Linked DNA regions of Homo sapiens. The protein of the gene in region 1 purifies or fractionates together with the protein of each later gene. This does not show direct contact. Each region holds a gene or a part of one and is shown on either strand. Other genes may lie near its edges.

What was found.
Region 2: the proteins of METTL26 (region 1) and GOLGA4 purify together in Homo sapiens (affinity purification with mass spectrometry; one large-scale study listed by BioGRID and IntAct). This does not show direct contact.

Annotation. Positions count from the first base shown.
Region 1 is NC_000016.10:633,919-637,760, forward strand, and holds METTL26 (methyltransferase-like 26), read right to left. Parts: upstream 2,388-3,842; 5' UTR 2,373-2,387; coding exon 2,176-2,372; intron 1,857-2,175; coding exon 1,694-1,856; coding exon of another isoform or gene 1,600-1,693; intron 1,423-1,599; coding exon 1,363-1,422; intron 1,146-1,362; coding exon of another isoform or gene 1,039-1,145; coding exon 971-1,038; intron 880-970; coding exon 801-879; intron 727-800; coding exon 679-726; coding exon of another isoform or gene 608-678; 3' UTR 512-607; downstream 1-511. Other genes in the region: WFIKKN1 (WAP, Kazal, immunoglobulin, Kunitz and NTR domain-containing protein 1 precursor), read left to right, coding at 1-139.
Region 2 is NC_000003.12:37,249,467-37,253,276, forward strand, and holds part of GOLGA4 (golgin subfamily A member 4), read left to right. Parts: intron 1-231; exon of another isoform or gene 232-276; intron 277-1,928; coding exon 1,929-2,018; intron 2,019-3,810. UniProt on the Homo sapiens protein: Involved in vesicular trafficking at the Golgi apparatus level. May play a role in delivery of transport vesicles containing GPI-linked proteins from the trans-Golgi network through its interaction with MACF1. Involved in endosome-to-Golgi trafficking.

The DNA.
Region 1 (3,842 bases):
CATGGGTGAGGTGCGCGATGGCGTGGCCGTGCTGGACGCCGGCAGCTACGTCCGCGCCGCCAGCGAGAAGCGCGTCAAGAAGATCTTGGAGCTGCTGGAGAAGCAGGCCTGCGAGCTGCTCAACCGCTTCCAGGACTAGCCCCCGCAGGGGCCTGCGCCACCCCGTCCTGGTGAATAAACGCACTCCCTGTGCCTCAGACCTCCTGGCTTGCTGCTGCTGGTCGGGCGACCCTCATCCTTCCAGGTGCCCCATGCCCAGCCAGTTTCCGCTGGGGCCTTGACACCCACTGGGGCTTGGGCTTTGGTACAAGGTCACCAGGGAGTGCCTGTCCGCCCCTGCATCCCCAACCAGCTCCATCCTGCCTCAGCAGCTGTCTCGGCCCCAATCCCACTGCCCGAGCTCCAGCAGCAAGGATCAGGACGTCCCAAGCCCTTGACCCCACAGGAGACCCCGTCTCCCACCCAACCTCACAAGGTGCTCCTAGGAGGAGGTGGGGCAGACACCAGCAAGCCGGCAGCAGGACATGCTTTATTCTGAGCAGGCTGGGCCCTTCGGCCAGCGGCTGAGAGCACAGACTGGGTGGGGCTGTCGTCCACAAGGTCCGGCCTAGGGAGGCAGGGTTCGTGCCTCACAGAGCCTCCGGCAGGGATGCAGGTGTGCGGGGGTGAAGGAGGGGCTTAGTTTTTCCGGAAGATCAGGCATTTGTTGTTGGCTGGCATGTCCACCTGGAGAAACACTTTGCTGGAGGACGGCCCTCAACCCCTAGAGAGGTTGCCTGGGCCCCCGCTCCCCCACCTACCATCCTCTCCAGGAGCAGGCCACTGGCCTTTCCCAGGTCCTCCAGGAGGGCTGTGTCCCGAAGCCCCCATTCTGGGTTCCTGCAGAGGGTGGGGAGATGGAGTCATGGCCTGGGGGGTGCCACCCAAGCCACCTGCCACCTGAGCCAGACCCCCCGCCTCTAGCTCTGACCTGCATCTGAGCATCAGGTCAAAGTCCACGTTGCTCTGGGGGGAGATCTTCCCATTGATGGCATAGGGCTGTGGGCATGGGGACACAGCCCACTGGACCAAGGTCGGGGTATTTCCCAGAGAGCCTGGGACAGACTTGCAGGCTGGGGTTTGGAGAATGAAAGGGCACCCCCTCCCTGTCCCCAAGAGGGAGTCAGCCAAGGCCAGCCTGGTGGGCAAGGGGGTAGGGAGGCTGGCAGATGACCCAGGGAGGGGTACAGACTGGAAGTGGAGGGGAGGCCGTGCTGGTGGCTGGGCGGGGGGCAGGGAGCCCAGGAGGGAGGACTCTCAGCAGGGCAGGAGACAGCAGCTAGGACTGGGAGCGGGAGGCCCGCCGTGGACAGGCCCACTCACCCCGTAGGTGATGAGCAGGGCCCTGGGTTTGAGCAGGTGTCCTGCTGCTCTGAAGAGCCCCTGGTGAGTAGGAACAGGACGGCAGTGAGGTGCTGCCCCCAACAGAAGCCAGGCCCTGAGGCTGGAGACCCTCACCCCGACTGTGATGGGGGAGGCTGGAGACCCTCACCCCGACTGTGATGGGGGAGGCTGGAGACCCTCACCCCGACTGTGATGGGGGAGGCTGGAGACCCTCACCCCGACTGTGATGGGGGCAAATCTGGCATCCCAGCTGCCCCCATGCAGGGTGAGTGGTGCCACGGCAGACACCCATGCTGGGCTCCCCACAGACCTCCGTGCAGCGCAGGGGGCTGACATGGGCCATGTTGATGCAGAGCAACAGGTCCAGCGACTGTGGCAGGATCCCGCCCCAGTGCTCCCAGCCCCACGTCACGTCCAGGTGTAGCGGGGCCTTCACGTTGGTCAGGCCCTGGGCTTGCGTGGTGGCCGCGATGCTGCAGGAGGCGAACGCTTGGGTGGGGGCCGAGTCCTGTGCACCCGCCTTTCCGACGCCCCCACAGAATTTCTTAGGGGAGGCTGGGGGGCACGTTGAGGAGCGGAGACCAAAGCGGCTGGGAAGGGGGACCCCGAGGTCCACCCACTTCCGCAGCCGCGGGGGCCGCACAGCTAGGGCCTGCCCCGGGGGCACCCCCAGGCTCCCACCCCGCACCCTCAGAGCCCGAGCCGCATCCTTTTCCTCCGGGGCTGCGGGCCGTGGGCTCTTGAGGCCCCGGACCGCCGCACCGATAGAAGTGGCCGCCCCGGGGGCCGCACCTGTCCAGGCAGCGCTGGTCCACGTCCGACGGCTGCCACTCGGCCAGGGGGAAGGCCCGCGCGAAGTGCGCTGCGTGCTGGCCGGAGCCCGAGGCCACCTCGAGGACGCGGACGCCACGCTGGGCCGGATCCAGGTACTGCCGCAGCACGTGCAAGATGGGATCCTTGTTCCGCTCCGCGGCCGCCGCCACCAGCATCGCGGCAGCAACAACTCCCCGCCGCGGACGCGGCGCGGGTCGCGTCGGGGGCGGTGGCCGGGCTTCCGCGGGGCACGTCGGGAGCTGTAGTCCAGATACCGCGGGGCACGTCGGAAGCTGATAAACTACAACTCCCAGGAGCACGCGCGCCTCCTGTTAAAGGACCAGCAGTCGCCAGAGGCACGGTGGGGAGCGGCTCAGCGGTGTGTGGCGGTCCCAGGCAGGGGACTGAACGGCGAGCTTGGCTTGCTGGTTTACAGGCGCCTCAGCTCAGGCACCCTGTCGCCCATGGCCGTCCAGGGTTTTCAGGGCACCTGTGTCACTCTCCGAAATTTGTGTCAGCGCTGCGCCAGACTGGGCGCCTTCCCTTGGTTTCGGGTTTTCTCTACTTTTAAATTTCTGGCGTTAGCGAGAGTTCGATGTTCAAATGGGAAAAAAAACTAAGTGCGCCGCCCGGGAATCGAACCCGGGTCGCAAGAATGGGAATCTTGCATGATACCACTACACCAGCGGCGCTGTCTAAGACAGTTGCTGCCCGCGGAGACAAGAGACTGTGACGCGGGAAGTCCTCCGGGCGTGCGCCGCCGCTGGCGCCGGGCTCAGCGCAAGGGAGCTGGCGACTGCATAGGAGGACCCAGCTGGCGGGACCGCGAGGGTAAGAGTCTCGCGGTGCCCCCCAGTGCCGGAGGGGAAGGAGCGGGCGTGAAGGACGCGAGCTGGAGGACAGTCTCGATTCGGGCCTGAGCCGTGGAAGCCGTTGGCCTTCGTGAGCCGATGGGGGCGAGGCCCTGTCGGGGCGGGGCTGGGGAGAGGGCGGGGCTGGGCTGGGGCCCCCTGTTGGTCCGAGTTTAGGGCGGGGTTGCCGGAGGGGCGGGGCCATATCGGGGCGGGTCCGAGAGGGGAGGCGGGGCTGGGGGGCGGGACATGAGTGTGGACTGGCGGGTTGGGGCGGGGCCAGAGCGGGGTTGCGGCAGGGGCGGCAGGGGCGGCAGGGGCGGCAGGGGCGGCAGAGGGCGGGGCGGGCGGTCCCAGCCTGCAGAACTGGGCGGTCTGCGGGAGGGGCACGAATAATGCCCCAGGGTTTCTCTGTGACACTGGGGTAACAGCACCAGCTCAGGGCCCACGGATAGCGTGAGGGGTCGGTCGGTGACCCCCGAAATCAAGTCACAGGCCGCGATTTATGTGCGCCCGAGGGTTGGGGTCCCAGCCTCAGAGCCGGGCTCTTCTCCAGAAAGTGCCAAGCGCCTGGCTCTGCATTCAGGACTGGCTTAGCGCCTTTGCTGAGCCGTTTTTCACCAATGGGAACCCCATATCGCTCTGGCTAGGGCAAGGACGTTGGAAGGGGTAAACCAGGGAGGGCCAGTCACGTGGCTCAGGGTAGGAGAGTGGCTTACAGGCTGCCAGTCTGGGACTGGGAACGCGGGCCATGGGGGGCTCAGGGAGTCAGGGGTCAGGGACAACCCTGCCAGG
Region 2 (3,810 bases), on another chromosome or scaffold:
TGTAGTGGTGCAATCTTGGCTCACTGCAACCTCTGCAGTTGAAGCAATTCTCCTGCCTCAGCCTCCTGAGTACCTGGGATTACAGGCGCACAACACTACTCTTGTTCATGTTTTTAAGTCCTTATTCTTCCTGTTTTGTCTTTGGTGGGAGAGGATATGTCATCCCTTAAGGTGACTTCTGCACATAGCTAATTTCATCTGTTGTATTGATTTTTCTGGTTCATCTTTTAGAAGGTGTTGGAGTTCTTGGTTGTAAGCAACAAAAAGTCAATCTAGGTAAGCAGAAAAATAATTTATTGAAGACTCTTTACCCTACAGAATTTCCCTGAGGTCCCAAAAGTCTGAGCTGATTGCTACGTCCAGTTATACTGGGGAGACTACTCTGTGTTGCAGCTGCTTCAGCTTGGCACCAGCATTGCATCTGTCACTTCACAGCTTATATTTGTGTGGATGCATGAAGTTCTGTCTCCATTGTCATCAGATGATGAACTTTATTTGTATGTCTGTTTTTTCACATCACTCACTTATGACTCGAAGTCTCATGTGTTTCATTGATGGAGCTCAGGTTACCCTGTCTCAGATAAAAAGAAGATTGGGTTAGTAAGTTTTCTGAGTTCTAACTTACGGACTTATAAGAGCTGTTTATAGAAAAAAGGTTATTAAACTTTTGTCATATTTGTAGATGCTTTTCCTCACCTCCCAATTAAACTGCTGCTTTGATTTGTTTTTCACATAAAAATCTCTTTCCCATTCAGAGATTGTAGAAATAGACTCTTGAATTTTTTGTATTTCAATAAAAAAAATTAAATCTTTAATATAGCTTAAGTATGAAGGATCTGATTTGTGTGTCTTGCCCCATATGGATGGCCAGTTGTCCCAACATTTATTGAATGTCTATCCTGATGCAAAATGTTACTTTTATCATAAGCTAAATATGTATATGTCTGTCTGGATGTATATATGTGTATATAGAGTATGTGTATATTTGTATACTATTCCTCACGACCTCTCAGTTCCACCCTAACCACAGCAGTTTGTGCACGGATACCACAGACCAGAGTTCCATTTGTTTATTCATTCATTCATTTATTTGACAAATATTTATTAACTGCCTTTTGTAAAGTGCAGACTACAAAAAGAGGTAAGATATCATGACTCATTCATTTCTCAAAATAGATCTGAGTTCAGATCTATTTTGCTGTGGGTGTAGGGGGATTTCAAAATTTTGGTTTTATACTTTTAGGGTTGTTTTTAGCTCACCTTAGAGTAGACCCCAGACCTCTAGTTTAAATTTTGAGCCCTTTCTCCTGAGTTTTTTTGCGCTGAGGGTTATAGGAGTCAGGCTGTCAATTACAGAGCTAAATGGAATAGCATCTCAGTATTTAGCAGTGGTATTCAAGGTAGGCTCAAAGCAAGGCCATTAATTAGGTGGGCAAGTGCTGTTTATCTGTGCATTTCATACTATTGAATGTTAGAGCTAGAAGGTAGAAGGGATCTTAAAGATTGAATTGCCAGCCTTTTTTTTTTAAATGAACTTCTAATTTTGGAATAATTTTGGTTTATAGAAAAGTTCTAAAGATAGTGCAGAGAGTTTTTATATACCCCTCACCTGGCTTCAGTTTTCTCTAATATTATCATCTTACACTAGTATCGCAACTTTATTTTATATATGGAGACACATAGTCCTCAAAAAGTTCATGTAGCTAAGATCATAGTTCTAGTTGGTGGCAGAGTTAGGCCAGGGACCTAGTAGGTAGCCTGGGTTTTCTAGTTGATTATATTTGTTATCCTTTTCTGCTTTTCGTGTTTTTGCTCTTTTCCTTTCTTTCACTGAATTCTTTGGGCATGGACTGAGAGAAGGACTACCTAGTTCATAGTTCACTAGTCAATATAGTCTTGCTAATTTGTGCAATAATTTTTAAATCTAGGCGTCCTCCAATTCTTCAACACCAACAAGAATGAGGAGCAGGACATCTTCATTTACAGAGCAACTTGATGAAGGTACACCCAATAGAGAGGTAAGTTTGGAATTCCTTTTCTAGTATACCTCTCAAAAGAAACTAATCTAAAATGTATGCTGTTGATAACAAAATGGGAAACTTTTGACAGGTCAGCTATTTAATTCCTAGGTAGAGTTTTTATTAGTAACACAATTGGTCTTTTTTTTTTTTTTTTCACAAATAGCAGTTATGATTTATGTCTGTCTGTCTGTCTGTATGTATGTATGTATGTTTTTGAGACAGGGTCTGGTTCTGTCACCCAGGCTAGAGTGTGGTGGCACGATCACTGCACATTGCAGCCTTGACCTTCTGGATTCAAGTGATCCTCTAACTTCAGCCTCCTGAGTAGCTGGGACTATAGGCGCACGCCACCTGCCTGGCTAACGTTTAAATTTTTCGTAGACGGGGTCCCACTATGTTGCTCAGGCTGGTCTTGAACTCCTGGGCTCAAGTGATTCTCCCAATTATGCTTTATAAAGTATGGTTGTTGAGAACCTTAATTTGAGAGGATAATATGTTCTGGATTTAATAGTTGAAGTTTTCAGAATAATTTGATAAATTTGTTCAACATAGCATCATTTTTTCAAGCTGGTGAGTGGAAACTGAGAAGTAACTTATTTAACTTATTCCATGTAACCAGCAGCTGGCATTAAAACTCATTATTTCCCACTTTTTTTCTGTGAAGTGTAACACACATACAAAAAGAAGGTAAAACATAAATGCACGGGTCAGCAAATTATCATGAAGTGAATCCTCCCAGGTCAAGCAAAGGAACACTGTTAGCACTGTCGTGCTCCCTTTCCCCCTGAAGGATTACCACCATCCTGAATTTTTGGTATTTGCTTGCTTCCTTTTTTTTTTTTTTTTTAATAGTTTTACCTCTTAAATATGCTTTCTAAATGTAAACATTGTAGTTAAACATTTGGGTTGTCTACAGGTTTTGGCTACTATGAATTATGTTGCCATCAACATTATTGTACTTTTTTTTGGTGTACATGTACCTGCATTTCTGTTGGTATGTACTTTGGAGTAGAATCACTGCTCCATTTTAACACATAAGAAGATAATGCTGATGGTTTTCCAGAGTGGTTGTAGAAATTTAAATTCTCACCAGGAGCTTATGAAAGTTGCTTTTGCCCTATATTTTTGAGAGTCTTTATTTTTCTACTCTGTGTAAATATGCTGGAAAACAGTCTTTTTCATTTCAGCTGTTCTGGTGGTGGTCTTTCATTTTGGTTTTAATTTACATTCTCTGATAACTAACGAGATTGAGCATTTACATCTGTTTATTGCCCATTTGATGTCTTTTGTGAGTGCTTAAGTCCCTTGCCCATTTTCTATTGGATTATCTTTTTTTAAAACTGATTTGTAGGAGTTTTTTAAAAAATATAGAATACTAAGGAGTTTTTTGTTGAATATATATCTTGCAGCTATCTTCCACTCAGTGGCTTGCCATTCATTTTAATGATGTCCTTTGATGAACAGAAGTTCTTAGTTTTAGGCCAAGTATGGTGGCTCATGCCTGTAATCCCAGCGCTTTGGAAGGCCAAGGCAGGAGGATTGCTTGAGTCCAGGAGTTTGAGACCAGCCTGGGCAACAGAGTGAGACCCTGTTTCTGCAAAAATAAAATAAAATAAAATTAGCTAGGTATGGTGGCATGCACCTGTGTGGTCCCAGCTACTCAGGAGGCTAAGGCAGGGGCATTACTTGAGCCTCGGAGGTCGAAGCTGCAGTGAACCATGATTGCACCAGCCTAGGTGACACAGTAAGACCCTGTCTTTCAAAAAAAAAAAAAAGCCTGGTTCCCATC